Linked DNA regions of Homo sapiens. The protein of the gene in region 3 purifies or fractionates together with the protein of the main gene of each other region. This does not show direct contact. Each region holds a gene or a part of one and is shown on either strand. Other genes may lie near its edges. The genes, in order: PCYOX1L, TTC17, LYZL2, LOXL2, SULF1, CNTNAP3 and MGAT5.

The links.
Region 1: the proteins of LYZL2 (region 3) and PCYOX1L purify together in Homo sapiens (affinity purification with mass spectrometry; 2 studies listed by BioGRID and IntAct, with this or other methods). This does not show direct contact.
Region 2: the proteins of LYZL2 (region 3) and TTC17 purify together in Homo sapiens (affinity purification with mass spectrometry; 2 studies listed by BioGRID and IntAct, with this or other methods). This does not show direct contact.
Region 4: the proteins of LYZL2 (region 3) and LOXL2 purify together in Homo sapiens (affinity purification with mass spectrometry; 2 studies listed by BioGRID and IntAct, with this or other methods). This does not show direct contact.
Region 5: the proteins of LYZL2 (region 3) and SULF1 purify together in Homo sapiens (affinity purification with mass spectrometry; 2 studies listed by BioGRID and IntAct, with this or other methods). This does not show direct contact.
Region 6: the proteins of LYZL2 (region 3) and CNTNAP3 purify together in Homo sapiens (affinity purification with mass spectrometry; 2 studies listed by BioGRID and IntAct, with this or other methods). This does not show direct contact.
Region 7: the proteins of LYZL2 (region 3) and MGAT5 purify together in Homo sapiens (affinity purification with mass spectrometry; 2 studies listed by BioGRID and IntAct, with this or other methods). This does not show direct contact.

What each region holds. Positions count from the first base shown.
Region 1 is NC_000005.10:149,356,421-149,361,261, forward strand, and holds the start of PCYOX1L (prenylcysteine oxidase 1-like isoform 1 precursor), read left to right. Parts: upstream 1-1,625; 5' UTR 1,626-1,648; coding exon 1,649-1,736; coding exon of another isoform or gene 1,737-1,752; intron 1,753-4,841. UniProt on the Homo sapiens protein: Likely to have oxidoreductase activity. Required in the mevalonate pathway to regulate prenylation and enhances the bactericidal activity of neutrophils.
Region 2 is NC_000011.10:43,487,588-43,491,692, reverse strand, and holds part of TTC17 (tetratricopeptide repeat protein 17 isoform 1 precursor), read right to left. Parts: intron 1,455-4,105; coding exon 1,335-1,454; intron 1-1,334. UniProt on the Homo sapiens protein: Plays a role in primary ciliogenesis by modulating actin polymerization.
Region 3 is NC_000010.11:30,612,550-30,616,654, forward strand, and holds part of LYZL2 (lysozyme-like protein 2 precursor), read right to left. Parts: intron 2,873-4,105; exon of another isoform or gene 2,698-2,872; intron 352-2,697; coding exon 273-351; intron 1-272.
Region 4 is NC_000008.11:23,299,617-23,303,583, forward strand, and holds part of LOXL2 (lysyl oxidase homolog 2 precursor), read right to left. Parts: intron 3,782-3,967; coding exon 3,666-3,781; intron 2,548-3,665; coding exon 2,411-2,547; intron 1-2,410. UniProt on the Homo sapiens protein: Mediates the post-translational oxidative deamination of lysine residues on target proteins leading to the formation of deaminated lysine (allysine).
Region 5 is NC_000008.11:69,499,087-69,503,191, reverse strand, and holds part of SULF1 (extracellular sulfatase Sulf-1 isoform 1 precursor), read right to left. Parts: intron 1,319-4,105; 5' UTR 1,224-1,318; intron 1-1,223. UniProt on the Homo sapiens protein: Exhibits arylsulfatase activity and highly specific endoglucosamine-6-sulfatase activity. It can remove sulfate from the C-6 position of glucosamine within specific subregions of intact heparin.
Region 6 is NC_000009.12:39,284,942-39,289,695, forward strand, and holds the start of CNTNAP3 (contactin-associated protein-like 3 isoform 1 precursor), read right to left. Parts: upstream 3,227-4,754; 5' UTR 3,124-3,226; coding exon 3,039-3,123; intron 1-3,038.
Region 7 is NC_000002.12:134,252,804-134,256,871, reverse strand, and holds the start of MGAT5 (alpha-1,6-mannosylglycoprotein 6-beta-N-acetylglucosaminyltransferase A), read right to left. Parts: upstream 2,801-4,068; 5' UTR 2,469-2,800; coding exon 2,228-2,468; intron 1-2,227. UniProt on the Homo sapiens protein: Catalyzes the addition of N-acetylglucosamine (GlcNAc) in beta 1-6 linkage to the alpha-linked mannose of biantennary N-linked oligosaccharides.

The DNA.
Region 1 (4,841 bases), on a different chromosome or scaffold from region 3:
AAAAAGTTTAAGATTATGACAAATGCATGATTATTCATCTACCAGTTTACTAGTAGTAATCCAGTTTGGCCCAAGTAAATTAAGTCTCAGTGCTGAGTTAGAACCCCAGCTATAAGCTCTTTCACCATTCTCTGAATCACTTCAGTTTTTTGTTTTTGTTTTTGTTTGAGTCAGAGTCTCGCTCTGTCACCCACGGTGGAGTGCAGTGGTACAATCTCGGCTCACTGCAACATGTGCCTCCCAGGTTCAAGCGATTCTCCTGCCCCAGCCTCCCGAGTAGCTGGGATTACAGGCGCACACCACCAAGCCCAGCTAATTTTTGCATTTTAGCAGAGATGAGGTTTCACCATGATGGCCGAGCTGGTCTCGAACTCCTGACCTCAAGTGATCTGCCCACCTCGGCCTCCCAAACTGCTGGGATTACAGGCATGAGCCACTGTGCCCGGCCCAGTTTCTTATTTTAGCCATAATCTCACTGAGTAAATATGGATTTCATTTATTTTTATATATTTATTTATTTTTAAAGACAGGGACTCTTGTCACTCAGGCTGGAGTGCAGTGGCACAATCATAGAACACTGTAACCTCAAACTACCGGTCTCAAGCCTCCCACCTCTGCCTCCTGAATAGCTAGGACTACAGGTGTGCACCACCACTCCTGGCGAATTTTTTTTTTTTAAGAGACGGGGTCTCAGAGTCTCATTATGTTGCCCAGGCTGGTCTCAAACTGCTGGCCTAAGCGATCCTCCCGCCTGACCTTCCAAAATGCTGGGATTACAGGCTTGAGCCACCCCCAGCCTCCGGATTTTCTTTATTCTGAAACTCATCCCTAACTTTATTTTCTGCCAGAGGAAGTCTGTTTTTCACAGCGTGATAAACTAGCAAGTCTGAGCTGCTGCTCTTGTCTTCTTAGAGGATGAAAATGGGAGTTTATCCCTCCTTTTCTCCTTTCTGAAAAGAGAGTAGATGAAACCTTCCCCCGCCTTTTGGTTTTTAGGAAGCAGAAAGCAGAGATATTAACTATATAAAAACTGCAAACACATAAATAACAGCAGTATAGAAAGCATAGGGCTTGTGTCAGCATATGAATGAGGTAGCGTCTTACCACCCTGGCCGCATGCTTGGTCAGCAATTTCCAGCACTTGCAGACACTGCAAAAGGCTTCCCTTATCTCATAAGATGGTTACAACCACCTAGAAAGGTGGAGCAGGATTCTTCGTCTGTGTTATAATAGAGGAAACAGACACAGAGAAGATACAGAGCTAATAACGCAGAGGCTGGACATAACCGAGGTCTTCAAAGCTTCACTTTGGTCTGTTTCATCCCTCTGCCGCAGCTGGGCCCTGGTCCTGATGCTGAGGACCCGAAGCGGGCACACCTGCGCCGGGCAAGAATGAACCCAGCCAATGAGGAGCCCGCATGCGGGGGGCGGGGCGGAACGGGGAAGCTGCCAATGAGAGAGCCTACCCCGAGAGAGATGGAGCTAATGAGGGCCTCGTGCTGGAGAGGGACGGCGGCTTGGCCAATGCGGAGCTGGGTCTGGCGCGGCAGGAAGGCGGGACTGCCAGTGGGGCGCCGGGGCGGGGCGGAGAGCCGAGCGCCAACCCGCTAGCGCCTGAATCCGGCGTGCTGCCCGCTCGCCGCCCGCCATGGCCCGCGCAGCCCCGCTGCTCGCCGCGTTGACCGCGCTCCTCGCCGCCGCCGCTGCTGGCGGAGATGCCCCGCCGGGCAAAATCGGTGCGGGAAGGACGCGGTGGGGTTCCCAGCTGGGGAGGGCCGGCGGGTAAAGGGTTCTCAGTTCTCAGCTAGGTGGGGTATAGGAGGGCGGCTGGGTGAGGGAGGGGTCCTCGGAAAAGGAGCTGGGTGGAGGAGAGGCGCCGAAGGGGACGCGGCAGGGAAGGTCCTGATGGGGCCGGGGCATGGCATGTGAAGAGGGCCACCTAGGACGGAAAAGAGGCCTGGGCAGGACTGGCCGCGGATCTCACCGGGAGGTCCAGGGTCGCTGAGCATCTGCCATGGTCCTGGCTGTTGGCTAGGCGCCCGGGTGACAGAGGACAGAGAGGCTGGGCGATGGCATTCACAGAGGTTGGTTGAGGGCTCTCTGTGTAGCAGACGTGGTGCTGTAGTTCCTGCTGGGGTAGAGCCCTCACAGTACAGGGAAGTCCGTGCTGAGCTGAGGAAGTACGGTGCATGCAGAGGAGGGGCGCTTCACCCTGTCTTTGCGGCCCTGGGAGGGCTTCCTGGAAGTAACATCTAAGCCAAACCACCCCCAGGTCGATAGGAGACAGTCCTGGCAGAGACAGAACACTAGGTCCGCTGGAGATTTGCTGACAGAACGGGGAACTTTTAACAACAGTCTTTTTGTTTATTGTGTGTGTGGTTTCCCCAATACTTTATTTTGAAAATGTTCAGATGTACAGCAAGAATTTTATAGTGGTCATCTGTATACCCACCACCTACATTCTGCCATTAACTGCTGCTATACTTGCTGTGTCACATAACTATCACGCACTGTTCTAGACATCCACGAATCCAGCCTACATTTTGATGCATCTCCAAATAAATTGCAGACATCAGGACACCTCACTAAATACGTCATCGTGCATATCATTGACTAGAGTGTCATATGTGTTTACAGTTGCTTTTTTTTTTCCTCCCTCAACAACTGTCATTTTAACTACATGACTCGTGAAGATTTTCAAGTCCCTCACACGTGATATTCCCACAGGCAGAGATCCTGGGCTTCGGGGTGGGAGGACAAAGACTCTATTCCGCTAGGCCACTCTCCATGCACCCCAGTTGGCAGGAGTGCCTGGAACATCTGATAGAAGCATCACAAACTTACAGGGTCCAGTGCAGTGCTAAAGCTTCTTGTGTAGCAGAACCACAGCCCAGGCCATACAGGGTTAAGAAGACTGAAGCATGCCAGAAACCAGTTTGAGACTGAGAGTTTAGTGCTTGCCAAGAAAAGAGAATCCTGAGGCTAGAGTAGCCAGAGAAGCCCTCATGGAGAAGGTGGAGTTTGAGCCAGGCATTGAAGGATGTGGAAGAGTTAGGCAGGCAGTATCCATGAGTGACCATGTGTTCTCTCTCTGTCCTTAGATCGTTTGAATACAGTGTGGCTAGGAGTAAGCAGAGTGTGCTGTGGGAATATGCAGGGCACTCCCCGTTTTCTTAGGAACAGGCAACAGGACAGGACATTTCTCACCATTGGGGAAGGAGCAGGACCTCCACCCAGCAGAATTGCTGCATTGTGGCAACATGGAGCTCTCTGCCTCCTTCCTCCCAGCTGGCCCTTCTGGCCCCATCCAAGAGTCATCCAGAGCAGGACACTTGGCAATGCCTCACTGCCCTTCAGCTTTCTAGATTTTCCTCAGCCCTCTGACGGGAGCCTCTGTTCATCCTTGGTGGTTTGGACTCTACCCACAACAAGAATGCGGATTCCTGTTAGGATGGCTTAATGCTTGTGCTTCTGCAGGACCAAATCTGAGAACCCCCAAGTGGCATCAGGACCCTCTAAACCCACCCATATAGTTCCATATGCTGCCCTTCTCATGCTGGTCTCTTTGCAGAGTGTGCGTGTCCTCTCACTGACAAAGCTGATTGTCCTCCAGCATCTTGCATGAAATCTTATTTCCCCAAGAAGGCTGTGTCCCCACACCCTCTGGGGCAGAATTCACTGCTTCCCCTTCAGGACTCCCTGGAACCCTGTTGCACTTCATCATGGGTTGTCGTTGCTAATTGCGCAGGAGTCTGTCTGCCCATTCCATGCTGGGGTCCTGGGGGACAGAAGCCTGTTTGATTTTTCTTTGTGCCCCAGGACATCTTACTGTAAATTAGAGAATTGGTGTCAGTTGTGTTAAATGAGCTGGTTCACAATGAAGTGGTGTCTTCTGCTTCCTGATCTTGGGCAGCTTCTAGGCCTTAATATCAATTTCTCTGGAAAAATGGGTAATTTGGGACTCTTTGCACATGGAGGGGATGGGAGCACACTGGTTAAAATAAAATCCAAAGCTGTCTTGGAAGTGGCTTTGTAAGTACTGTGAGAGGAAGTGGTTTATTCTTTCAACACAGAAAAAATACTTCATGAACTCTACTGTCCACCAGGATCTGGGGACATAGTGATCATGCACTCTCTCTCTGTCCTTAAATAACTTGACTACAGTACGGCTAAGCAGAGTGTGCTGTGGGAATATGCAGGAGGAACACCTGACTCACCTCAGGTGGGTCAGTCAAGCCAAGTTATAGGTGACATCTGAGGGCTGTTGAAGCCAGTGAGACACAGGGTGATGGCACTCCTATCAAAGGGAACAGCTCGGACAAAGGCCCAGGCATGAGAGAACAAAGCTATGTGCCCACAATAAGAGAAGCCTAGACAGACAAGAAGGTGGCATCTTGGGAGGGTAAAGCAGGAAATGGAATAAGTAAGCAGAGGCCAGATCATAGAGAACCTGGTGCTGTCTGAGGATTGCCTGTGACTTCTGGCAGGAACTGGTACTCTGTGGGTCCAAATGGGTCCAGTAAGGACAAATTACACCAGATTTATTTAATTTTCTTTTGGGGTAAGGCCTCTGGACTGTCTGATGAGAAGAGAGTGGTGTTTCAGATACATGGTGAGCAAAAATTATAGGTAGGGTGGTAGTCCAGTTCAGTAGCTTCATAGCTGGTTTATAGTTCTCTCACAGGACTGTTTAATGATTAGTGTCAGGTGAGGCACAGTGGCTAATGCCTGTAATTCCAGCACTTGGGGAGGCCAAGGCAGGAGGATCACTTGAGCTCAGGAGTTCAAGACCAGCCTGGGCAACATGGTGAAACCTCATCTCTACGAAAAATATGTCGGGC
Region 2 (4,105 bases), on a different chromosome or scaffold from region 3:
CTGTGTACTGTCCACAGACCACACTTAGAGTCATGCTGTCAGAAAGCCAAAATAATTTCTGCAAGAACCATTATATCATTACGGGTTGGCAAACTTTGGCCCATAGGCCAAACCTAGTCTCCTGCCTATTTTGAAAAAAGTTTTATTAGGACACAATCATTCCCAGTCCTCTACGTATTTCTGTGGCTGTTTTCATACTACAATGCTAGAATTAAGTAGGTGCACCAGAGGCTGTCTGGCCTCCAGAGTCCAAGTGTTTTATTCTCTTGCCCTTTTCGGGAAGTTTGCTGACTCCCAGAGGTAGAGCCTCAGCCCTTCCCTATTGCCTAACAGTATAGAGTACAAAATGATGGATGGAACAAGTAGCAAGATTGCTATCATCACAAATATCATTCCCTTTAAATGTCTAACTTGAGCAACTGTTACCTGTATCATGCCATATTGGGTTCTGTAGCAGACACAGAAGAAACAGAAAGGACCCATCTTTGTGACAGCCATAGAATGCATGACTCTAGATGAGCTCATTGAAGTTCAATAAGGTGCCCAAATTCACAAAGCTAGTAAGAGGTAGAGCTGTGTTTAAAACTCAGCAATGCCTGACAATAAATCCTGTGTTCCTTCCATCATTCCATACATTGCCTTGACGAACAAAGAAGACACCAGCCATGTCTTTAAAAAGCATAAGATCTGGATTAATGCAGAACTCAGAACACATGAATACAAATGTGCTGATAAAACACTGTATTTTCTCATCCATCATAACAATAACCGGTCTTCTGGAAAAGTCTGGTGTCACACAGGGTTAGCCGGTTTTTTTTTTTTTTTTTTTTTTTTTTTTGTGGAAAAAGTAGAAGTCAGACAAGGACCAGGAACTGGCCAATGTACATGAATAAATGGAAATTTGCTTCTATCTCTGTGCTTGGAAGCAAGCTCAAGCCAAGAGGATAAGCAAAACAAGTCTAAGAGGTCACCAGGCCCCTGATGACAAGCTAAATTCAGATTGACTTCTATGTGTCAGCCCACTTAGGCCAGTGCATTTGCTGTATGTTGGGTGGCTCTGAACACAGCAGAAAGGGGACTAAATGCAGTACTGTCTTACAGTGATCTGGAAGGCCTTCCCCACGTTCCAACCTGCTGAAGCTGGGAAGGCAGCAGGGATAGTTCATAGGCTTGCTGGGGCACAAGCCCAGTCAGAAGGTCTCCTGCCCCATTCTCTCCTTGGAATATGTCCTCACTGGCTGAGCATGAGGGAGGCTGGTTCAAAGGGCAGAATAAACCATGGGGAATGGAAAGGACAAAGGGGCAGAAGTTCCCACCTTCTGAGTCCCACTCACCTTCATCTGGTGTGGCGCATAGTGCAGAGCCTGGCGGAGGCAGTCGATTGCCTTCTTTCCTTGGCCTTTCACCCTCCAGTAGAGGGCTGCCATGCTGGAGAGGACCCAGGACGTCTGGTTCTGCAAAGGAATGTTAGCCAAGGCTGGTGTCCTTTCAAGAACATACTCATTTATTACCAAGATTAAGTTCAGTAACACAAGTCATGACCATTCAACTGAGTATTTACTAAGTGCTGGCACTCTGCTCAGCACTTTCTGTTCCACCTGTCCTTCATTAATCCTTAGAACAATCCTGTGAGCTTGATACTACTATTACAGCCCTTCTATAAATGAGAAAACTATGACTCAGAGAGCTTAAGTGTCTTGCCCAAGTTCACTCAACTACTGAATAGCAGAACTATATCTCATATCTATGTTCTATTTTATTTAACTTTCTGAATAGGTAACACAGTCACACGTTTCAAAAACCAGGAAGTATACAAAGTTATACCATGAAGTCTCTCTCCCATCCTCGTCTCTATGGTAGACAAGTAAACATTATTTTTAATTTTTTACGTTTCCTTCTAGAATTTCCTCCCCTCACCTCCCCCCTCCCCCCTCCTTTCCTTTGTCCTTTTTTTTTTGAGACAGAGTCTCGCTGTCGCCCAGGCTGGAGTGCAGTGGAATGATCTCAGCTCACTGCAACCTTCATCTCCCAGGTTCAAGCGATTCTTCTGTCTCAGCCTCCCGAGTAGCTGGGATTAGAGGAGTGCACCACCACGCCTGTCTAATTTTTGTATTTTTAGTAGAGATAGAGTTTCACCATGTTGGCCAGGCTGGTCTCGAACTCATGACCTCAGGTGATCTGCACACTTCGGCCTCCCAAAGTGCTGGGATTACAGGCATAAGCCACCATGCCCACCCGGATTATAACAATTTAATCTCCTGCCAGAAATATCTAAGTATCACCATTTCCTTATAGCCCCATCACAGAGTTTGTTACTAAACTCTTAGGCCCCTGACAATCTGATGGGTGAGAAATGTGGTTTTAATCTGCATTTCCTTTCTTATGAGTAGAGTTGACCATTCTTCCATATTTGTTAGCCTTTTGAACGTCTTTTCTGTAAACTATTTGCATTCATATTTTGTTAATTGTTCTGTGAGGTTTTTGTCTTGTCTGTTGGTAAAAAGTTCTTTATATTTTAGGGAGATCATCCTTGCCTATGATTTACAGATAAGCTTCCCGAGTTTGAAGTCTGTCTTTGGACTTATGGTACTTTGTGTGATGTAGATTTTGATTGCTACAGAATTTGGTTTTTTAGTGATCTTCAATGACTTCTGGATTTTCAGTTGTAGTTAGGAAGCCCTACCTCATTCCAAGGATATAAAGAAATTTTACTGGGCCAGGCTTGGTGGCTCACGGCTGTAATTTTAGTGCATTGGGAGGCCAAGGCAAGAGGAGATCAGCCTGGGCAACACAGCAAGATCCTGTCTCTACAAAAAATAAAAAATACAGCTGGGCATGATGGTGTGCACCTGTAGTCTCAACTACTTAGGAGGCTGAGGCAGGAGGATCGCTTGAGCCCAGGAGTTTGAGGTTGCAGTGAGCTATGATCACACCACTTAGTGCACTTCAGCCTGCAGGAGACAGAGTGAGACCCTGTCTCTTAAAAAGCAAAAGAAATAAATATTTCACCATTTCCCCTACAGAATTTTTATAATTTCATTTTTTACATTTAAATATTTGATCCATTTGAAATTTAATCTGCTGTAAAGTAAAAGATATGGCTCCAACTTAATTTTTCTCCAGATAGCTACTAATTTGTCTCAAAATTTAATTAATAATTCACCTCTCTCCCCACTGAGATACTACCTTTACTATATATAAAGTAATATATATATTATACTATATATAAATACAGTATTTAATTTAGGTTGAATTTTGAATTTAGGTCTAACTTTGGATTTTTAAAATCTATTTCATTTGCAACTTTTGGTTGATGATCTCTGACTCCCAGCCATTACAGAAGAGGCACTCAGAAAACTTAACTGCTTGTCTGATTTGTGTTTTCAATAACATTTTTGTTAATTTTATAATTCTACATTTTCAGGGCGTATAGTATTTACATTCTGACCTATCACTCTATGCCTCACCTTTTAGTATTGGTTTTACAGCTGAATATAATCAGTGGTCACTGACATTACTTTTGTGTGGTTTTCCCAATCATCTCCTGGTTGGCTAAAGCTCATCTTCTAATAGTTTCCTCAAGAACGGCTCATGGGAACAATATTCTTTGAGATCACTGCTATGGGTTGAACTATGTTCCCCCAAAATTCATATTTTTAAGTCCCAATCCCCTGTACCTCAGAATGTAACTGTATGTGGAGGTCTTTAAAGCAATGATTAAGTTAAAATAAGGCTATTAGAGTGGGGCCCTAACTCTAAATGACTGGATTTATATGAAGGAGCTAGAAGAAGGACAGACACACCAGGGTCCTGTGTGCACAGAGGGACAACCATGTGAAGAGGCAGCAAGAGGCCAACTGCAAGCCGAAGAGAGAGGTCTCAGGGGAGACCAACCCTGCCAGCACTTTGATCTCAGGCTTCCAGCCCCCAGACCAGTGATAAAATAAATTTCTGCTGTTTAAGCCACCCTGTCTGTGGCATTTTGTTCTAGTGGCCCTAGCAAACTAATACACTCATATATGTTGAAAAACTTCTGTCTGGTGCTTTCAGAGCTAAAAGACAGCTTGGTTGGATTTAAAACCACAGCTTATTCTTTCCTCAAATA
Region 3 (4,105 bases):
TAGAAAATACCTTTCTCCATTGTTTGGAATATGTTCATATGAAAAGCAATTGCAAATTATCTTAACTCACTCCCATGTCTCTGCTCCCTTTCTATGTACTACTATGTTCACTGCACACCCACACACTGATGGAGGAGAATATAGACAAGGTCTCCTTCCATTGGTTGGACCACTCTGCGGAGGTGAGTTTGTCAATTCCACCATAACTGTGATAAATACACACACTAGGTTTTGCCCATGACAGCCCAAGTCTTCCAAGGAAAGACTCTTACCAATAGTTCATTCCTTGTGTCTCTTTAACAATTTTCTTGGCACAGATAATCGCATCTGTGAGGTCATCAGTGACCAAGGCTGTAAAAAGAGAGGTCATCAGGGTTAGGCGAGACTTTGTTGTTGGAGAGGGACCCCAACTCAAGTTTACTTCATTTTTCTCAGTCTTTTTGGGATGGGAAGGTTGGAAGAACTATAATTTTCCCTGCAAAGCCACAATCTCATTTCTGTTGAGCTTCTTCATAATGAAAAGAACTTTGCTTTTGTTTTAAGACCATCTTCATCTTGCACTACCTGACATTTCAGAGGAAGAGCCCAATCCTGAAGGGTTTTTGGAAATGTGTTTAGAGAAGACGCTATGTGAAAATGTTCCTTATGTCCTACAGAAATAGGCACAGGCCGGGCGTGGTGGCTGACCTGCAATCCCAGTACTTTGGGAGGCCAAGGTAGGAGAATCACTTGAGGCCAGGAGTTTGAGTCCAGTCTGGGCAACATAGCAAGACCTCATCTCTACAAAATGTAAAAAAAATAGCCTAGTGTGATGGCACACACCTGTGGTCTCAGCTACTTGGGAGTCTGAGGTGGGAGAATCACTTGAGCCCAGGAGGTCAAAGCTGAAATGAGTTGTGTTTACATCACTGTACTCCAGCCTGGGCAACAGAGTGAGACTCTGTCTTAAGAAAAAAAAAAAAAAGGCACATAAGACAGGATAGTATAGTGTTTTCTGTATTTGGGTTAGTTTGACGTGTAAGGTTTCTTTACAGGTAAATATTAAATTTTGTCTATTGTCATTTTTCAGTTTGTGTCTTAAAAAAATTTTATCCAGGGTGTTTTTCATGTGCAGAAAGTTTTACCTTTTAAATCAAATACACCAGTCTTTGTCTTTATTACTTTTCCTTTTCTGTTTCCTTTTTGAGACAGAATCTCACTCTGTCACCCAGGCTGGAGTGCAGTGGCATGATAATAGCTCACTGCAGCCTCAACCTCCTGGCCTCAAGCAATACTTCCACCTCAGCCTTCAAAATAGCTGGAAATACAGGTATGCACCACCACGCCTGACCATTTTTTATTTTTATTTTTGTAGAGACAGGGTTTCACCAGGCTGGTCTGGAACTCCTGGGCTCAAGCAATCCTCTGGCTTTGGCCTCCCAAAGTGCTGGGATTACAGACATGAGCCACCATGCCCCGCCACCTATTATTTTTTCTATTGCTTCAGACATAACAAATCTTTGAATTGAAATGTATTAGTTGATATCCACATTCTTTCCTGCTTGCTTAGAAGCGGCCTCAAAATCCTCAACACAAACATGACAGAAAAAGGCAAATAAACAAAACAAGTTCAACATTACTTCTACTGCAAGTTGAGTCCTCCAGGAGCTGATGCTGAGATGGGTTTGAAATGCCAGATATTTTCAGCAATCCACACCTATGAAAGGAATCGGCTGGGGGGAAGCAGGATGGGCAGACGGAGATGTCCATTTGTGACGCAGACCCAGCAATTCATTGGGCAGCCCAGCCATGAGCTCCCGAGTGAGCACTGCCCATCAGAGTGGCCCAAGTCAGGCCCACATGCCAGGTCTGAATGCCTCTGCCTCACACGTCAATGGGTGTGGGTCACCCCGGAAGGGAGCAACCTGCACCTGAAGCCAATCCTGAAGCAGGTGGCAGGTACTGTCTGCTCATCACACAACTGCAGCGGGGGCAGCATGTCTTCCCTTAGCAGGGGATCTGGGAGGCCCATCTCCATGACCACCACAACCACCAATCAAGGACAAAAATACTCAAACCACTTGATCTCATTACTGCTTGTCAATTATGCAAAGATTTTTTTTTTAAGAGAATTGGGTAATGCTGGATGTTGACAAGGGCACAGAGAGGCAGGTTCTCTGGATACTTGCTGGTGGGAGTATAATGGATTCAATGTCTCAGGAAACCAACATAGCAGCATGTGTTTAGAGCCTTAACGAGGTTTTTATCCTTTCACCTAATAATTTCTCTCTCCAGATCTATCCTAAGGAAATAGTCATGACACTAGACAAATATTTCTTTACAAAGTGGTTTACTATAGCATTATTTACAAGAGTTAAAATGAAAAAATCTAATTGCCTCATAATCAGTGATATTCAAATTAGTCATAATACCTTCATTTAATAAAATAAAGAGCTGTTTGAATTATGTTTTCCCAGGATATTTAATAATATGGAGAAATGCTCCCAATGCAATGTTAAGTTCCCAATATCATAAAAATATCCATTGAGAGCTGTATTGGCTAATGCCAATATGGCAGGCATTAGCAACATGTGATAATTTAAATTAAAATTATATTTGTTGACAGGTGAATGGATAAAAATATGTTTATATAGAGAGTGGAATATTATTCAGTCATGGAAAAGAAGGAAATGCTGACATTTGCAACAACATGGAAGAACGGAAGGACGTCATGCTAAGTGAAGGAAGTGAGACCCAGAAAGACAAATACCACATGATTTCACGCATATGCAAAATCTACAAAAGTTGAACTCATAAAAGCAGAGAGTAGAGCGGTGGCTGGTTAGGAAAATGGGGAGATGCTGATGGAAGGGTCCAAACTTTCAGTTATAAGGTGAGGAAGGTCTGGGGGTCTAAGGTAAGCTATTGTGACCATAGTTAATTATACTGTACTGCTTACTTGAAATTTGCTGATAGTGGATCTTAAGTGTTCTTCTCTCTCTCTCTCTCTCTCTGTCTCTCATACACACACTCTGTCACACACACACAGTAATTATGTGAGGTAATGTTAAACTCAATTGTAGTGATCATTTCCCAATGTATAAATATATCAAATTATCATGTTATTTACTTTAAATATATACAATTTTGATTTGTCAGTTATACCTCAATAAAGCTGGGAAAAATATAAAAAATTGTAATTAATTAACATTAAAGACAATTAAAACTTTAGTTCCTTATTTGTTCTAGCTACATCTCAGATACTTTATAGCCACTCATGGCTAGTGGTTCTGTTTGACAGCACAGATGGAAGACATTTTTGTCATCATGGAAAGTTCTATTAGATAGCACTGGTTTAGAAAAAAAAAGATAGTCATTAATTCACCAGTATTTTAAGAAAGATTGGCTCTTAACTGTGGGTTCACCAATGCTTTTATGTCTTTACTGTATATTTTCTAAAATTTTTTACAATTGAAATGTACTACTTTTATTACCAGAAAAATAACCAAAAATAATGTTAGCATAAAATGTTGCATTTCAATAAGGCATTGTAATTCCAAATTATTTTGTTAACTCAGTTGAAAGTGGAATTTTTCCTTGAGCATGCTATTTCCTTGAGTTGCTAATTTTGTTGCTTTCTCAGTTAGGCTTCACTAGAAGATAAACGTAGTGATAGATTTTTTTTAAGCAAATTTATTCTAAATGTGGCTTAATTTTTATTTGAAACAAAATTCTATTAACCAGGAGAAAAAGTAACAAAATACATCGTCTATAAGAGATAGCAATTGAAACAACATACGCAGATTCACTAGCATTTGGTTTATAGTTCTACAGTGAAAACTAAAGCTATATCAGCTTATAAAATTCTCTTGCCAGCCTGGTGCGGTGGCTCACGCCTATAATCCCAGCACTTTGGGAGGCTGAGGCGGGCAGATCGCCAGGTCAGGAGATGGAGACCATCCTCTCAAAACAAACATCCATCTCAAAACAAACAATCAAACAAACAACAACAAAAAAGTCTTTTGCCTATCTTCTTGAGATATAAATATTTAGGATAATAACAGCTATTACCACTAGCTAATACTTTATTGAAATCTTACTCTATGTCAGGCACATGTTAAATCTC
Region 4 (3,967 bases), on a different chromosome or scaffold from region 3:
ACGGTGAGGACCCGAGGAGAAAAGAGAAAGGGAGGGAGAGGGAGAAGAGACAACAGTGGTGAACAGAGGGGCAGAGGACACAGATGACAGGCCTTCCCTCGAGGGTCCTGCCACATTTGGAAGGGCTGCGACCCACAGCAGGGGGGCGGGTACAGGCTGCTCGTTCAGGAACATTCTCTAAATTTGGGGCCCCAGAAGGGCCTGGACACGAACCTTTAGCAGGCCGCTGGGCTTGCCCAAAGAGGTGCTGTGGGAAGCCAAGGCCAGCCTGGCAGCCGGCCCTCTGCTCTGGCCCAGCGGGGCTGTTCTGGGGGCCTGCACCTGGCTCAGCTGTGTCCCGCTGGGGCCCTGTGCCTTTAGCTAAGGAGGTACATGCCCTGCTCCGGGGCGGCTTGAGTTTTTTCTTTTCCACCCAACCATTCTAGCTGCCCCCTCGTTCCTGGCCCACACATGGCATGGGGCAAACACAGCTCCACATGCCAAGGCCTCCAGCTGTGCAGGCCTAGGCAGCTCCTTGGCCGCCCAGGCGTCTCGACAGTGCAGCCGTGAGGGCGGCTGGATGCAGCAAGGGCTCGTGTTGGGGACACGAGGGCCAGTGTTACGTGTGGGGTGGAGGCGGGGCTGGAAATGTGTGTCCCCCACTGTTTCACCCCACTCATCTACTGCAGACCGACATCTCACGAGGGCCTGCGGGAAGTGGCTTTAGGTTTCTGTATGTCTGTGAATCTAGGAAATGATGAGAAAGCGGATAAAGCGGGGCCACCAGGAGCCAGGAGGCCCCTTCACCCCTGCCTCTGAGCTCTGCACAGGTCCCTCTGCGTGGACGGTCACTTCCTCCTCGCCCAGCTCCCTCCTCCTGTCCTTCACAGCACCACTGATGTCTGAAGTGAAGACCACCTCTTGTGTCCCGTGAGTCCCCAGGCCGGTGCTTGTGGCACCTAAAGAAGCTCCATGTCTATCTTAAGGGGAATGTTCTTTTTGATTAATCAGAGGTATTAACATGCCCCTAATGAGTCCATTTGCTAATTGTATTGTTTAGGGGTTGAGAAAACAAAATAAAGAGTTGATATGTCTGGGGTTGGGTGGCCGTGAAATGAGGGTAATGATGATGCCCCTTCCTTGGGAGATTAAATCAAACAATGCATTCCCCAGGCTTAGGCAATTGATAGTAGTTATTAAGTGGATGGCACTGGCCAGAATACAGGGAGATACACACTCACCCAGCAAAATGATAGCAAACCTCAAACAGAAACCACCAGGCACTGTATACGTGCACATGGCCACGGCTATTCATCTTTTAAAATAAATAACTCTCTGGTTAGGCCTCTCCAAGTCTGTGGTTCTGGGCTTGTGGGTGGAAAAGTGCTTGGCTGTCTGCTTTCCAGCCTCTGAAACTGCCCAGGAATTCTCTGAAAGCCCCTCTGTGGTGACTTCTCTGAAGGTGTTGTTTCTTCAGAGGACTGTCTGTAGGTGGGGACCGTGGGCCAGGCCCTGGGCTGGCTGAATGCCCCCTCAGGAAAGCTTTCAAGGTGGAATGACACATTTCTGGTCATCCACTTTGCTAGCCAACAGGGCAAGCTGGAAAACGAGATGGGTGAGGACGTAGGAGAGAGTGAGAGGGTGAGATAAAGCTTCTGCAGGCTACGTGTACCCGTGCACTGGGAGAGACACTAGGGACACAATGCCCCTTTTCTCCCCCAGTTAGAGCCCTGGCCAGAACATGCCGCTGTTTTCAGGAAGGAGGGAAGCCAAGGCCCCCTTGTTCCTCCTCAGGGCTGGCCTTCCACCCAGAGTATGTGGAAACAAATCTCGGCAACCCCTCTGACAAAGAAGTCACCTGGCCAGGCTGTGTCTCGTGTTCAGTATTTTATTCTTATAGATTCACTTTGCATTGAGAATGGCCCCTTCTGCAGATCCTCCTCTATGAGGCAGATATTTCCGGAAGAGCTAAGTCACAGATATTTGCAAGTGACTGGCTCTTTATGAGTTTGCTTTCAGTCTTGAAAGCACAGACCAAGGCAGCCTAGGGCACTAGGAGAAATGGGGATGGTGGAGACAAGAGCTCCATAGGAGACAAGAGGTGTGGGTTGCCTGAGCATGTATGGAATAAACTGGCCGGAGGAGCAAATCTAGCCTGCTGATGAGTTTTGATTTGCATGCACCAGGTGTTAACTCAATCAAATGTGAATGCCTGTGGTGTCTCTGGTCCTGTGCACGCCCTATTTCTCAGGCCCCCATGCCTGATATCTTTGGGTTAACTGATGGACCGTGATGGCCTCTGGGGGTAGCACCTTGCCCTTTAGACAGCCTGACTTCCATGCCCCTGTGTGGACACCAATGGGAAGGAGCCTGTGGAGGTGGCCTCCCCTCCTCCCCCTGCAGGGCTGGAACCCCTTCCCACCCACCTCACCTGGAACAGGTAGTCTCCAGGGGGCACGTCAGTGATGTCAACCCACTGGCAGTCGATGTCATGGCGGTACATGTCCCAGCAGCCCATGGTGATGCCCTGATCGCCGAAGTTGGCACACTCGTAATTCTTCTGGATGTCTGCGGGCAGGGTAGAGGAGAGCTCATCACCAGGGAACCATGGCCCCACTGCCGCACCCTCTTCCTGCTTCCAAGGCCCCTACCGCTGCTTCATCTGGGCTCGGCATCCCACCCCACTGTGTGGGCTGCTCATCTGTTCTCATTTCAGTAGAACCCCCCACTCAATTCCCTACCCACATCCTGCCTCTTCTCTCAGGCCAGGCTCAAGTTCCCCTTCCTCCATGAAGCCCTCCCTGACCACTCTGATCCACCCTGGCCTTTCTGTGACATCCTCAGCCTGGGGATAACTGCGTGTGTGTGGACCGAGGAAATCTCTGGTGCCTGTGGTTTAGCAAAACGTGGGGGGTCATACTGTCTGTCTCCTCTGGAGGATCGGCAATTAGAGTGTAGGCCCATGTCTCTCTGACACTTACATGTTATCTGCACATGGTAAGAGGTCAACACCTGTCTGCTGTGTGATTTCACGGCAAGTCAGTGGCGGGCCGCTTCAATGAATAACAAATTAAACACGCATTTACTGAGAAGCTGCCATGCCTGGACACTGCTGTAAACAGTGGGTCTAGCAAGAAGAACTGACATGTCTCCCCATGAAGAGCCCCCAGGGCTGCAGGTGCACTAACAGGTGATCACAGGGCAGGTGTGGTGACCTACCAGAAGTGTGAGCAGAGTGCCACACCTGCCGGGACGGGGGGGCGCTTCAGAGGAGGGCATTTGAGATATAATTGAAGGGTGACACCTGGTGTGGTAGGGACACTTGGCATTGGGACACCAGAAAAAAGGTTGGTGGCAGCCAGAGTGGGAGGGGCATACGCATCAGGGTCTAGGCTGCTAAGCCCAGATGGAGCAGGGTCCCCAGAGTCTGGATCTTGTCCAGGAGGCCCTGTGGACCGACCAGTGCCTGTCAGCACAGCTCTGGGGAATCCGGGTGCCCTTGGAACCAGGTCATGCCCATGCCCCCAGCGCCTCACTATAGCTGAGGAAGGTCCAGGTGGGGAAAGGTGGCAGTGGTCAGAGTGACACAGGGTCAGTGCCAGGCCTGGGCTCCAGCCAGGTGATCGTGGAGGCAGAGGCATTCGAGTCCCTCTGAGGCCTCCCATCCCCCCACTCCGCTCAGATACCTCCTTCACATTCTGTGTCCTCCAAGCAGAAGCTGGCCTTGTGGCCCTCTGCCACCTTGGTGCCATTGAGGTTCAGCAGGTCATAGTGGGTGAACACCTCCATGCTGTGGTAGTGCCTGGAGCGAGAGAGAGATGGCCTGGAGGTCAGTTTCTGGAGCAACTGCTGCTTGCAAGCAGAGGCCTGGCTGGCGATTTGCCTCTGGGAATACTTCCAGGGGACCAGAGGGGGCCGGGTGGGGAGAGGAGTGGATGAGAGGCCTGAGGAAAGGAAAGCCGGTGCTGCAGAGGCAGCTTCAGGGCTC
Region 5 (4,105 bases), on a different chromosome or scaffold from region 3:
ACTTGTAGAATGAAGGCAAAAATGTTTAATTCGATAAGTATTAGAAAGAGAAGCTGGATAAAACAACCCTCAAAAGGCAAACCTGAAATTCGGGCCAGACTTGAAGACGTTGCTTTTTAGGTGAGGTTCATGAAAGTTTTGGTGATTACAGGACTTATTCCAAGCCACCTTGGGCCAACGGAAGGCTTAGAATAAAAATCAAGCAGGCTGGTTGTGGTGGCTCACGCCTATAATCCCGGCCATTTAGGAGGCTGAGGTAGGTGGATCACTTGAGGTCAGGAGTTCAAGACCAGCCTGGCCAACATGGTGAAACCCCATCTCTGCTAAAATACAAAAATTAGCTGGGCGTGGTGGCAGGCGCCTGTAATCCCAGCTAATCGGGAGGCTGAGGCAGGAGAATTGCTTGAACCCAGGAGGCGGAGGTTGCAGTGAGCCAAGATCACACCACTACACTCCAGCCTGCGTAACAGAGCAAGACTTCCTCTCAAAAAAAAAAAAAAAGAAAAAAAAAGAAAAAGAAAAGAAAAAAAAAATCAAGCAAATAGCAATGATTCTGAAGAGTGACTAATGAAATAGAGAGGAACTGAACATTTTCATTGCATTAGTTTTTAGGGGTGAAAGGGAGCAACTCTCAAAGTTGACATTTGAAAAAGCCTCATGAGGTTGTACCCTCATATGAACCCAAACCCTAGAAATGTTTTTGCCACCAAGGTGAAATTGCTGAGATGGGTTGCCACAACTCTCCCTGGCTCCATGAAAGCTCTTGGCACTAATGTTTATCTGGCCAAGGAAAGAAACTGTGAAGACGAGCTGTGAATAAATCAGATATCTGTACAGCTTTCACTCCTGACACTGTGGAGTATGTTGTGGATGGCTGTGCATGGCGGGCCTACCACACTGCCCCCTAATTCCCCTGAGCTTCCTTCCTGAGCAGCTCATAATATGTCAATAGTCATATGATTGTTTAGATTCCCATTTTTCAGATGGTTCTTCTGACATTTCTTAGGACTGATTTCGTGACATGGCTCTACCACGTGGAAGGCCCCTTTTAGCTCTCTCAGTCAACAAGAATGAGAATGTGATGGGAAGGTAGAGGACCATTGACTTTTCAGTTTCTGCCAGTTCTTAACAATTCCCCAACCGTGAAATGTTCCCCTCTTCAAGTGACATAGAGTGCCCAGGTGGTCCTTGGTTTAAGCTAGAGATAAAAATTTGATGAATACCTTTGAAGATTTTCTGCAATTATTCTGCCTTGAAGAACCTGCATGTCATTTGCCAAGTTTATCTTCTTTAGATGATGGTGGGTGGCCGTCAGCACCTACGATGGAAAAGAGCAAAATTGCCATCAGTTACGTTTTATCAGCAATTCCTCTCATCTTTCAGATGTTGCCCTTTCACAGCCTCAAAGGGGGTGATCATTAGGAACAATATTCTCTAAATTTCATCCAGACCGATTTTCTTACAATCACTCGCAAGAGTCTTTGAAGCATTGTGGGTGATTCGGTCCTTTTGTAGAAGTTTCTATTTTGACTGCTTCTCCAACAAGGAAAAGACTTTCCATTAGATTCATTTCATATCATTCTTTGACTGGATTTCATAGAACCATTAAAGAAGAGTTTCCTTTTAAAAGTTTACAAAGTGTTCCAAGTTTAAAGGTTGAGTGCTGTCTAATTTCAGGTTGGGAGACCTATTTTAAAGGAAAACGCGCTGAATCATGGAATCTTTTAAAGTTGCAGCAAGCTATTATTTGATGACTAGCAAAGTAAGCATTTCCAAGTGGTAAAATTTGTTTATATTCCACATTTTTGACAGCTGAAAAATGTAAGTGATTAAAATAAATTTGAACACTTTGAATATGAGGAAATTCCCATTTTAATGTTTTAAGTATCAAATGAAGCAATCTTGCTGCCATGAACATCTGACATATACATACTGTATGTAAATGTGCATATGATATAAAAGAGAACATAATATAAGATAGAATAAGGAAATGAGACCTCTTATTTAACAACTCAGAATTTCCTTCACATTTAAAAAATATTGATCATGCCCATGTAAATATTAATGTTTAATAAAGCATTTCATTTAAAGTCTTCATACTTTTCCACTGGTGACTACAGTTGTACCTTCGTATACATATGGGGGGATCTCAGAGGTAATGGGTGCAGATTTTTTCCCTCCATAGGCCTGGAATCTCTTTTTATCCTGAGCTGGCCTTGGCGAGTCAGGTTAAGCCCCAGGTCCTTTGCTTTGCTCTGGATGGATCACTCCTACCACAAGATTGCTGCAGCAGTGCCTCCTTGGAGCTGGCCTGGTGCTGCAGGATTCACTTTCCTCCCACACGACTCTCATCACCCCTCTTTCCACTCCAAACAGCAGTGAAACTCCGCCGCCGCTAGTTTTATGCCACCCTCTGCAATGTGGCCCACCTCACCCATTAGGCCTCTAGATCACTCGCTTCACTGTGCTTCTCCTCCTGGGGGTTGGGGAGTTCTAGAAGAACTTTTCCATCCTGTCTCCATGGTGCTGATATCACAAATTATTAGAAGCATCATGCAGATGCCCACTTGTAAAATATGTTCTGAGAGGACATATACATGTTTGTGCTTATAATTGTATGTGCACCTCATGATCTCCTACAGTGAAAGTTTACATCTGAATGTGATGTCAAAAGTATCTGGCTGTGGTTAGGCTGGCACAGTCTGATGTCAAAGAATACCTTTTCTGAGACTGTTCTGAATATGCTACCGGGCAGCTGAGTCTGGAATGAGATGCCGGAATACCAGGCTATGGCATTCACTGGCTATGTGGCCTTGAGCACATTACTTAATTTCTCTATGCCTCAGTATTCTCCTCTGACAAATGGGAATTTAAAATGGTATCTACCCCATAGGGTTGATGTGAGGATTACATGAAAACATTCATGTGAAAAACTTGCAAGACGACCTAGCACAAAATAAGGGTTCAATAAACATCGGCAATCATTATTACTTGGACTGATTTTTTTTAGACCAGTAATAAAGATACAACCTTCCTTGCATATTTGCAATCAAAAGACATTTTCATGAAATGAGACCAGAATTTTCTTAAATTTTATAAATGTAGACTTTGATTTCTCATCATTAAAATGATAATGTGTAGGCCAGGTGAGGTGGCTCATGCCTATAATCCCAGCACTTTGGGAGGCTGAGATGGGAGGATTGCTTGAGGCCAGGAGTTCAAGACCAGCCTGGGCAACACAGTGGGACCCTCATCTCAACCAAAAAATTTAAAAACTAGCTGGGTGTGGTGGTGTGCACCTGTAATATCAGCTACTTGGGAGGCTGAGGCGGTAGGATTACTTGAGCCCAGGTGTTTGAGGCTGCAGTGAACTATGATCACACCACTGCTCTCCAGTCTAGGAAACAGAGCTAGAATGTCTTTAAAAAAATAAATAATAATAATGTGTGGTATAATCATATAATAATTTAATTGTTATGGGCTATTGAAGAAAGAACAGAGGCAGCCTAAGTTCCTGCTGATATGTGTATGCACGTGAGAGTCAAATACTTCCTGCTGTGTTGTATGAAGGTTTGTTTGTTTCCCAGAATAGAGAAGGGTGATAGGATGACTTGGCCCTCACAGTTCTCAGCTCCAAAATCTCCACCCCAGAGGACTGATTGCCTGGATCCTTTCTTCTCTATAGGTGCCATCTTGTAACAGTTCCTTATAAACAGGTGTAATTCTTAATATGCAATAGAAATTCCTTTTGTTAAAATGTTTTTTCCAATTTCATTAATGAATACTTAGTTAAAACAAATTTATTCTTTAGTTTCAGCAAAACAGCATCATCTGGCAAAGAGGATTAATATGAATTAGAGTATTATTGGTGTATGGGTTTCGTTTATCCTTAGAGACTTATTTTGAAATTTTAATAGTATAAATAGAATTATGCTAATGTGTATTTATAGCTATACAAACATAAAACAACTTATACATAGCTTTTTGGGTACATATTTCAGTAACATTTTAATAGATAATAATGTAAGTCTGGGACCCGTTGCAGTGGCTCATGCCTGTAATCCCAGCAGTTTGGGAGGCCGAGGCGGGCAGATTGCTTGAAGTC
Region 6 (4,754 bases), on a different chromosome or scaffold from region 3:
CTTTAAATGGTATTACTAAAAGGTCCAAAATGAAACATCTGTAAAAATAATTATTCCTACACTCTGTGAGATCTCTTTCCTGACACATTTCACATCTAAGTGAGTTTCCTAACTAACCCACACACACTCTATAGTAGGCTTACCCTTCTTTCCCCAGGCTGGCTGGCGAACTTGCAAAACATAACCATTTAGGGGAAAAAATTGAGGCAATTAAAATTAAAAGTGTTTTAGGCTAAGTAATGAATAAATTAACCCACTGAAAAGTTACATCAAAGGCTATTACTCAGCATTTTACCAGTTACAGGAATTTCTGCAAAATCTGCCCAGCCATTTGTTTGTGTATCCCTGGGATCAGTGCCCAGCGTTCAATCTTTCTCTTGATGCTTCCTGCTGTTTTCAGGGACTCAATGAGAGCAGTAAGTGACCTTTCACTCACTGCAAGTCTATGGGCACTGAAGTTAGGAAAATATTTCCCTTCATGCAGAATCTTCCTAACAAAGCTTTCCCATGTATTTGTCGGGTCAAATAACATTCAGATAAACTGCACATAATCCCCAAAATGCCAAATGTTTAGAAAGCTTTTTTTTTTTGAGACAGAGTTTTGTGTTTTCCTCTTGTTGCCCAGGCTGGAGTGCTATGGTGGGATCTCGGCTCACTGCAACCTCCATCTCCCAGGTTCAAGCGATTCTCCTGCCTCAGCCTCCCGAGAAGCTGGGATTACAGATGCCTGCCACCACGCCCGGCTAATTTTTGTATTTTTAGTAGAGACAGGGTTTCACCATGGTGGCCAAGCTGGTCTCCAACTCCTGACCTCAGGTGATCCACCCACCTCGGCCTCCCAAAGTGCTGGGATTACAGACGCGAGCCACTGTGCCCGGCCTATAGAGCTCTTCCCATGAAGAGCCATTTCATGCCATCATCAACAGGTTGCCTTCGTGGGTGGCCAATGTGCTTCTCGAAAACCAGCTGTGAATAACGTGAGCAACTCATGGTGTCTACATGAGAAGGAAACTTTTAGATGTCCTTATTGACTTTCTTCTTGGTATTGAAGGTGGTATAATTATTACAGTTACATAGTTTTATCTGGAAGAATTACTTGATCTAAAAGGTAATTTAAAATTAGTAAAATTTATTAGATATGAGGATACTAAGTTTCATCAACGAAAGAAGACTGAAAACACCCACAGTAGTAGTATTGAAATTTCACGTGTCACTCAGCAACTCGCGAGAGTCCCGTCTGGTGCTGAGTCCATTTGGAATATCTGTCCCTGCCCTCCCCTCCTCCAAAAAGAATGTTCACTATAAACGAGAAGAGCTTAATTTCTATGGGCTTTGTAATCCTTCCACTGGATTCCAAGCAAAATAACTACCAATACAACTAATCCTGAGAATAAAAAGTAATCACAACTATGCAACAAAAACAGGAAAGGTGGTGGCAGGGTCTCACTCAGATTTCATTGCTTTGCTTTTCTCCAGGAAGGTCTTTTTGAAGCCCTGTTTATTCAATAGTAAGAGTGACCTCTAGTGACTTTTTTTGTTGTTGTATTTTGCCAGTTGATTGGTCAATTACTCTAGCATGCCTTTCTATAAGTAGCTCATTTATATGTTTGTTTAAGCCAAACGGCAGTTTCCATTACAAGACCCAAGGATTTTGATTTAAGTAACAACGTTTTATTCACAAAGCCTTCTCACAAAAGCAGATTAAAGTTGAATCTGAAACACGGTACAGCATCTGACCAAAGGAATCCGGAGCTTGTTTTTTGGAAGGGCACACCAAGTGTAGGATTAACTGAGGCGCAACTGAATCATGATGCACAGTGAGTTCATGAACCCATGTGCGTGCCCTGTGTGTGAAGAACCAACCCACCCTTGAGCCCGCGGGCAGAACAGCACTGAGCTACGGCAAACTTTTCATGACAGCTTAGGAGAACTGCTGAAAGCTACCCTTGGTTATCCTGCAATAATCTAAATTTCCAAACATGGCCACTGGCGTTTATTGGAACTTATTTCGAAAGAGATTTTGGTAGGAGAGGGCTGAGGCTGACAGCGGGGAGATGCCACTGAAAGAAAAATAAAAGTGATTTGAGAAGGAAGAGGAAGACATTTTAAAAATTCTAATCTCATGGTTTGATTAATCAAGAAAGAAAGACAACTCTCTGCTAGAGATTTACTCCAAGCCAAAAAAAAAATGTGCAATGTTGTGTAAACATTTTTATGTGTGATAAAATATGGGTACATTATGTTTTGCTCATCTGTCTGGAATATCATCATTACATTAGAATCATAGCCCATTCTAGAAATAAAGGCTTCCTAGGTGTTTACCAAATTAAGGAAAATAAAAAACAGGGAACCTGATGGCAAATTAAATAATGTAAAATATTAGCATCCAGAGAGGAATCATTTTCAAGATCACCTAAATGACTGGCTGAGTTTTGTCTTTAAGCAAGAACTTTCTACTATGAGAAACGAAGCCCCTGACAGGGGTGTTCAAGTGTTATTCCCTTAGTAGTTAGGACAGGTTATTAATTTAGTTTCACCTACAGGCGCTCTGTCCCTATACTGCATGGAAGTTAATTAGCATTTTAACTCTGAAGCTGCCAAGGTCGGCAAAACTGTAAGCTGCTAACATCTAAGTTGATGCAGTATGATGTAATGTCTGCCAGTTTTTTCCCTGTTAGACTTAATTCCTACAAAATATTACAATCCTAAAAAGGAATAAATGACAGCATTTGCACGCTAATCTCTTATTAAGATGCTTTTCAGGTTTTACAGAAACGTCCACTTTCTCAATGAATATTCAAGTACATCGATTAAAAAGTCAAAACATGCATGGTATATCTTAGACTCCCCCACAAGAGGAAAGTCTATTGTAAACAAAATCGTCTTTTTCGGGTTGCAATTCCAAATTTTTTTTAAGGTTCTTCATGTTCAGGAGCATGTTCTGCAATTCCACTTCCAAATATTACCGATAATAAAAAAAAAAAAACAAAGTTTTCCAGACAGCCTAGCGCAAGTTTTAAACCATTTGCTGTACTTACGTGGATTTCCTGCTCCCACGGGGCTCCAAGTCTGAGTGGGGAGAAGCAGCAGCACCTTGAGGACGGCCCAGGCCACTGAAGCCATGCTCACTTCAGCCAGGCGCCCTGAGACCCGGGCACGGCGACGGCCGCTCTGCGTCGCTCCTGCTCTCACTCCCGTCCCCTGCGCGGCTCTGACGCTGCTCTGCCTCCCCTGTCCAGTCTCTAGCTCTCTTCCTCACGCACCAGCAGCCTCCCTCGGCGCTGCAGACCCTCCCGCCAAGCCGCGCCCGGCCCCAGCTGCGTCTCCGAGGTCGGCCCCGCGGACTCGCGCCGCAGCTTTCTGGAGCGCTCGGGGCCGCGCGGCGCCACCCCAGGCACGGAGGCGGCAGGTTCAGGCGCGTCCCGGACACTAGGCGCGGGAGGCGGCCGGCAGCAACGCGAGTCAAGAAGCGAGCGGGAGGGACGCCCCAGCTCCGCCTGGCGCTCTCCTCCCGTTATACCGGCAGCTTCCTCCGTCCCTCTCTCCCACCGGGGCGGGGCGGCCGCGGTGCACGGACTCGCGCCAAAGACCGCGCCGTCAGCCTCCGCCTGCAGGTGGAGAACGCCAGGCTTTATCACTGCGCTGTTCACCCAACGCAGGGGCTGCACCCAGGAAAATGCTGTCCTGTTTGAGTTCAAATAGGGAAGATGGGGCAGAAATAACTCTGCGGCGTGTACTTGGGCAGACGCGCGCACACTTTGATTTTGCTAGGAATTCTGACTTGTAGAGAACCAAGCTGGGAAACCGGGCCAGGAGCAGGGAGAGGCCGGTGAGCCTGGGTTGTGCGAGTGCAAGCCTTTATTTAAAGTTTTAATATTTTGTCTATCATGGGTTTTTTTTTCTTTGCGATTACATTCAATTTTAAAACTATTTCATTCATTCAGGATTAGCGTTACTTAACAGTTGCTCCTGAGACTAGTGCGTTAGTCCCTTCACCCTAGTCCTGGCCTTGGTGGAAGTCTAAAATTTACGTTTTATTCCAGCTTTCTGTCCAAAAGAGCAACCCCTGCAAGTGTAGGATGAGGAGCTCAGTCCAGCAGCAGCTAACACTGCACTCCTTGCGCGCCTACTGTGTGCTAGAGGGAGGGGCGGAGGCAGGGGGCGGGGGGGGGGGTCTTTCTCTTTTTCTCTTCCTCTGCTTCTCAAATTCACAGTAGGGGCAAAGATTGACAAACTCACTCACATTACCACCACCGCGAGTTTCCAAAAAAGAAAAAAGAAAGAAAGATACTTTTTTAGATGGTATCTCTAAGAAATAGTGTATTAATCTTCCCTTTAGAAAGACAACTTTGAAAGGCTTTTTCATTAAAATGAATTCAAATGTAATAGATGTAAAATGTAAAATGAATTCAAATGTAATAGATGAAGAATCTTACAAAGTCATTCTTGAATTATTAATTGGGTTCACTTAAACTACTTTTGCACAAGAACTCTGTAAATAGCACGTCTTTTATTACAGAAAAAATTATAAATCTAAAGTTTTGATTGACAGATCAGTTGCCTTCAGTGAGACAGAAAGAGAGAAAATGGAAATCATTTTCTAAATTGGACCTAGAGTAAAACAACAAATGTCAATCTATTATTATACCAATTTGTCAGGCATCAGATGGAGTCTTTAAAAATGTGAACTTGGCCGGGTGCAGTGGCTCATGCCTGTAATCTCAGCACTTTGGGAGGCGGAGGAGGCCAAGAGG
Region 7 (4,068 bases), on a different chromosome or scaffold from region 3:
GTTAAAGTTGATTCGATGAAAGAGAAAACTAGCAGTGTCAGTTAGAGTTGCTGATGTGACCTGTTTGATTGTTTCTTTGTTGTTTTTGAGAAAAAGACAAATTATTTTGCTAAGGTTCATCTACGAAAGTAAGTTGGAATAAATAATTTCTATAGTTTCTTTGAGATGCAAAGTCTTATGATTACAGGCATATAAGGTGGCTGAAATTCTAACAGCCTATTCTGGGATTTTTTTGTAACTTAAAAAATAATATTTCTGTGAGGCTGAAAAGCTAAGACCAAATTATTGTCCTTTAAAATGTGGGGAAGCCTTCCCTATGAGATTTTCATCAATACACAAGAAATACAAACAGCCAAAACAACTGCAGAAATTTAAAGCCTATAAATTTGCTATTTGTGGGGCTTCTTCTTGCCCATGGAAAAGGTTTGACAGACTGAGAGAAACAAGAGAAAATTACCACTGAGCTGTAACTCTTTCCCTTCAAAGCTGTAACATGAAATGCATACAACCAGAAACTTTAAAACTGCACCTGTGTTACCTGCTGTGTCATATACATTGGTAACACTAATGGTGACAATCAGCTTTATTTTCTGTTGGTTTATCTAAACTACTCTGGAAATGTTACACAAATGTGAGTCAATGAGCAATTTTAAAATGCAACTCTAGGAAAAACTACCTAGTTACTTTTCAGTGTAAGCTCCCACAGTGGAATCTCATTTTTTAAATCCATCAGTTCAAAAAAGGTACCATTTTTTTAGATATATTAAAAGCCAATGCCTACAGACACTTTTAACAGATTAAATGCAGAGTGTGATTATTTACATAGTAAGAACTAGAAAAGAATTTCTAAAATGTTCCTCAGAAGTAAGCATCTTCTAATATATACACATACACACACACACATACACATACGTGTGTATAAAATTTTACATACTTTTTTAAAAACAAGTTTTTTTCCCCTTTTGGAAAGAAAGAAGCACATGTATAACTGAGTATGATTTCCTGTGTCTGAACTCAACCTGCACTGAACTGAACTGTTGCTGCACATTTTTGGGAATCACGATTTGAAATCGGCATACTTCAGGGCACCTTCCTTGAGTGGGTCACAAAACACAACTCCACTTTCTCCACCTCACCTAACCCCATTCTTGCATCTCATCTATACTATCAGGGAGACCACTTCAGTGAGACCACTGAAACCTCAATTCAATGATCAGACTCTTGTCACTCAACAACAGGTCATCTTCTACAGACCAAGTCTGCTCTGCAAAACACAGCATGATCTAAATTCCATTTGCAATTTTTTTCCAAGTATTTGTGTGTGTATGTGTATGTATATATATATGTGTGTGTATATATATATGTGTATATATGTGTATATATATGTATATATGTATATATATGTATATATATATTTGTGTGTGTATGCAAAGTATCAGAAAAATACACACTGAAATGTTAATTGTGGTTATTGCCTGGAGTAGTAGACTTATGTGTAATTTTTTTCTTTTTTTGCTTGTCTACAGCTTCCAACTTTTTCTATATTAAACATAAAAGAAAAATAAGTTACATCCCATATGTGTATTTTTTTACTCTTTCTGATTTCAAAAAGAATTCTGAAAAAAATTCTTTAAAGAAAAAGCAACAAGTACACAAAGATTCCTTTCAAAGTGAGGGCAGTTAGAGACAAGGGCAAGAAGAAGAGCAACATAACCTCAAGAAGCCAAAGGTTAAAACTCACCAGCATGCAAGTGCCAGTGTCATATTTATTGGCTGGAGGGAGGAACACAATTGGCTCTAAGTTTACTGGCTTCCATAGAACATTCCTCCCCATCCTCTTCACCTCACCCCCACCAGCCTTAATTAAGTTTTGTTTAGGGAAAGATGAGAATATTTTTCAGCATTCCCTGAACTCACTCCCACATGAGATCACATGGTTCCTGAAATGTGTTCAGGGAGAAGGAGCTAGCTGCAAACACAACCAATAGAGCCCTAACTATACTAACCCACTGACTCCAGGGGAAAGTGTGTCTGCATACACCAGCTCAGAACCCCCAAAATGGCATTGCTTTAATTTCCTAAAGATGCCTCTCTGTGTGCAATTCACTGCTTATGAAGGCAGTGGCAAAGGACATTCAGTCCATGACAAGACCATATCTGGGAGCTTCTAGGGCCATTTCAAGGCCAAGGCACACTTTAATGGAGAGGTCCCAGAAACAGTGCTTACCATAAGCTGTCATGACTCCAGCGTATGGCCCATCCACCACATTCCTGTTTTCTTCTGCCAGTGCCTTGATGTACCTTTTGCTGAGGTCCAGGATCTGCTCGCGCAGCATGGAGCTGCTTTCAGGCTGAGTTCGCTGCTGGATGGTAAAGTGCAGAAGCATCATACCCCAAATGAAGCCAAAAGTCACCAGGAAAAAGCCCAGCTTCTGAGAGGACAACTTCCACGGAGTGAAGAGAGCCATTGCTCTCTGGCAACTTCACCTGTCCTTGGCTCTTAACGCGTAGAAGATAGACACAAATTCATGGTGTAGGTTGAGTGTGAGAGTCTGCTGGTCTCACTCTGGCTCCTGTGTCAGCTGGTTGCCTTTCCTCACTTCCATTCTGCTGTGAAGGAGGAGAAGAATTAGCCAAGTGGTCATGGCACAATACAGCAAAATAAACCAGAAGCCATGTTTTCACTTGAATACCTCTAAGTAAAATGTCAACTCTTAAATTTGCTGGTTCAATATCTTATGATTCAGGAACTGTAAGCTGAGGGGAAATCTGGCTAGGCAACAAGAAGCTAAGCAATTATGAAGGGGGAAGTGTGCGTCTGCGTGTGTTAACAGGTGTAGTGGGGCTGTTCCAGCCTGGACCAAATTCAAAACAGGAAGTTTGTTTTGCAAGGTGGGGAGGAGACAGAAGGATATTTGGCGGAATGTCAGCAAAAACGGGGAGGGTGGAGTCATATCACCATCAGGCCCTTTTGTGTGCCTGTAACTTAAGCTTACAAAGTCATTATTATGTGCTTCTGGCAAGGACTAGAACATGCAACTGGTGAGGTGAGCAAGAAAGTGGATGCCCCCTTGGGGGTAACTAGACAAAGAAGAGGTAGATTGCTACATCTTATTTGAGCATGGCCAGCTTTCACCATCAGTGTTTAGTGATGAGATGGCTCTCTCAGGGCCACCAGGCAACCTCTCTAGGTGCACCAGCACAGAGAAGATATGCCAGAGGTACAAGCAGGGGTATTGCTTTCCCAGCTACATGAGGAAAAGGTACACCTCACTGCTCACTTGCATGCTGTAGCACAAGAAATGTGGAACACCTGGCAGGCAGATTTTCTGTGGTTCTCACTTTCACTCCCACCATGAGGCAAAATGAGACATTAAAAGGCAGAGTAGTTTCAATATTAATGCAGCCAGATCCTATCTAATGCCAGCACAGACCAGGCCACTCTTCTCAATCAGGGCTTCCCAACAAGTAGGACCTGAGCATAGGTTGCAAATGGTTACCAGCATGCCCACCCCTTCAGCCAGAGTCCTGGGCCCAATACCAGTCAGCTTACGAATAGCGCCATTTTCTAAGTGCCACTCAAGGGAGAGGCTGAGCAATGATCCGATCCCTTATAAGAGACTAACCCAGGCTGTACTTCAGAGTGTACATACATGCTTCAGTCAAAGGATTCTTCTTTGCAAGCGGCCCAAAAGAAAATGGTAGCAGGATCTTGAAGCAATTAGCTTTCAGAGCCCTGGATCACTGTTGGTCTGCCTCTTACTGTTTTCCCATTGCCTATCAACAGAGTAAAAATAAATTATAAATTCTAGCTATATCCCAGATATTGTGACATACCATCTTTTGTGGCTTTGCTCACTGAATCCTCAGAAGTTCTATATGGTAAGAAGTATGAATATTATCGTCTCTGTTTTATTAGAAACATGAGAAAATAAAGGTAAAAGGTGATTAACTTGGCAAAGGTCAGCCAGCTATGTGGCAGAGGACTGATCATCTAGGCATGGCCCAGGGGTTATTAAACCATGCCCCACCTTCCCTACATCATCCTCACTCCCCCAACAGCCTGTT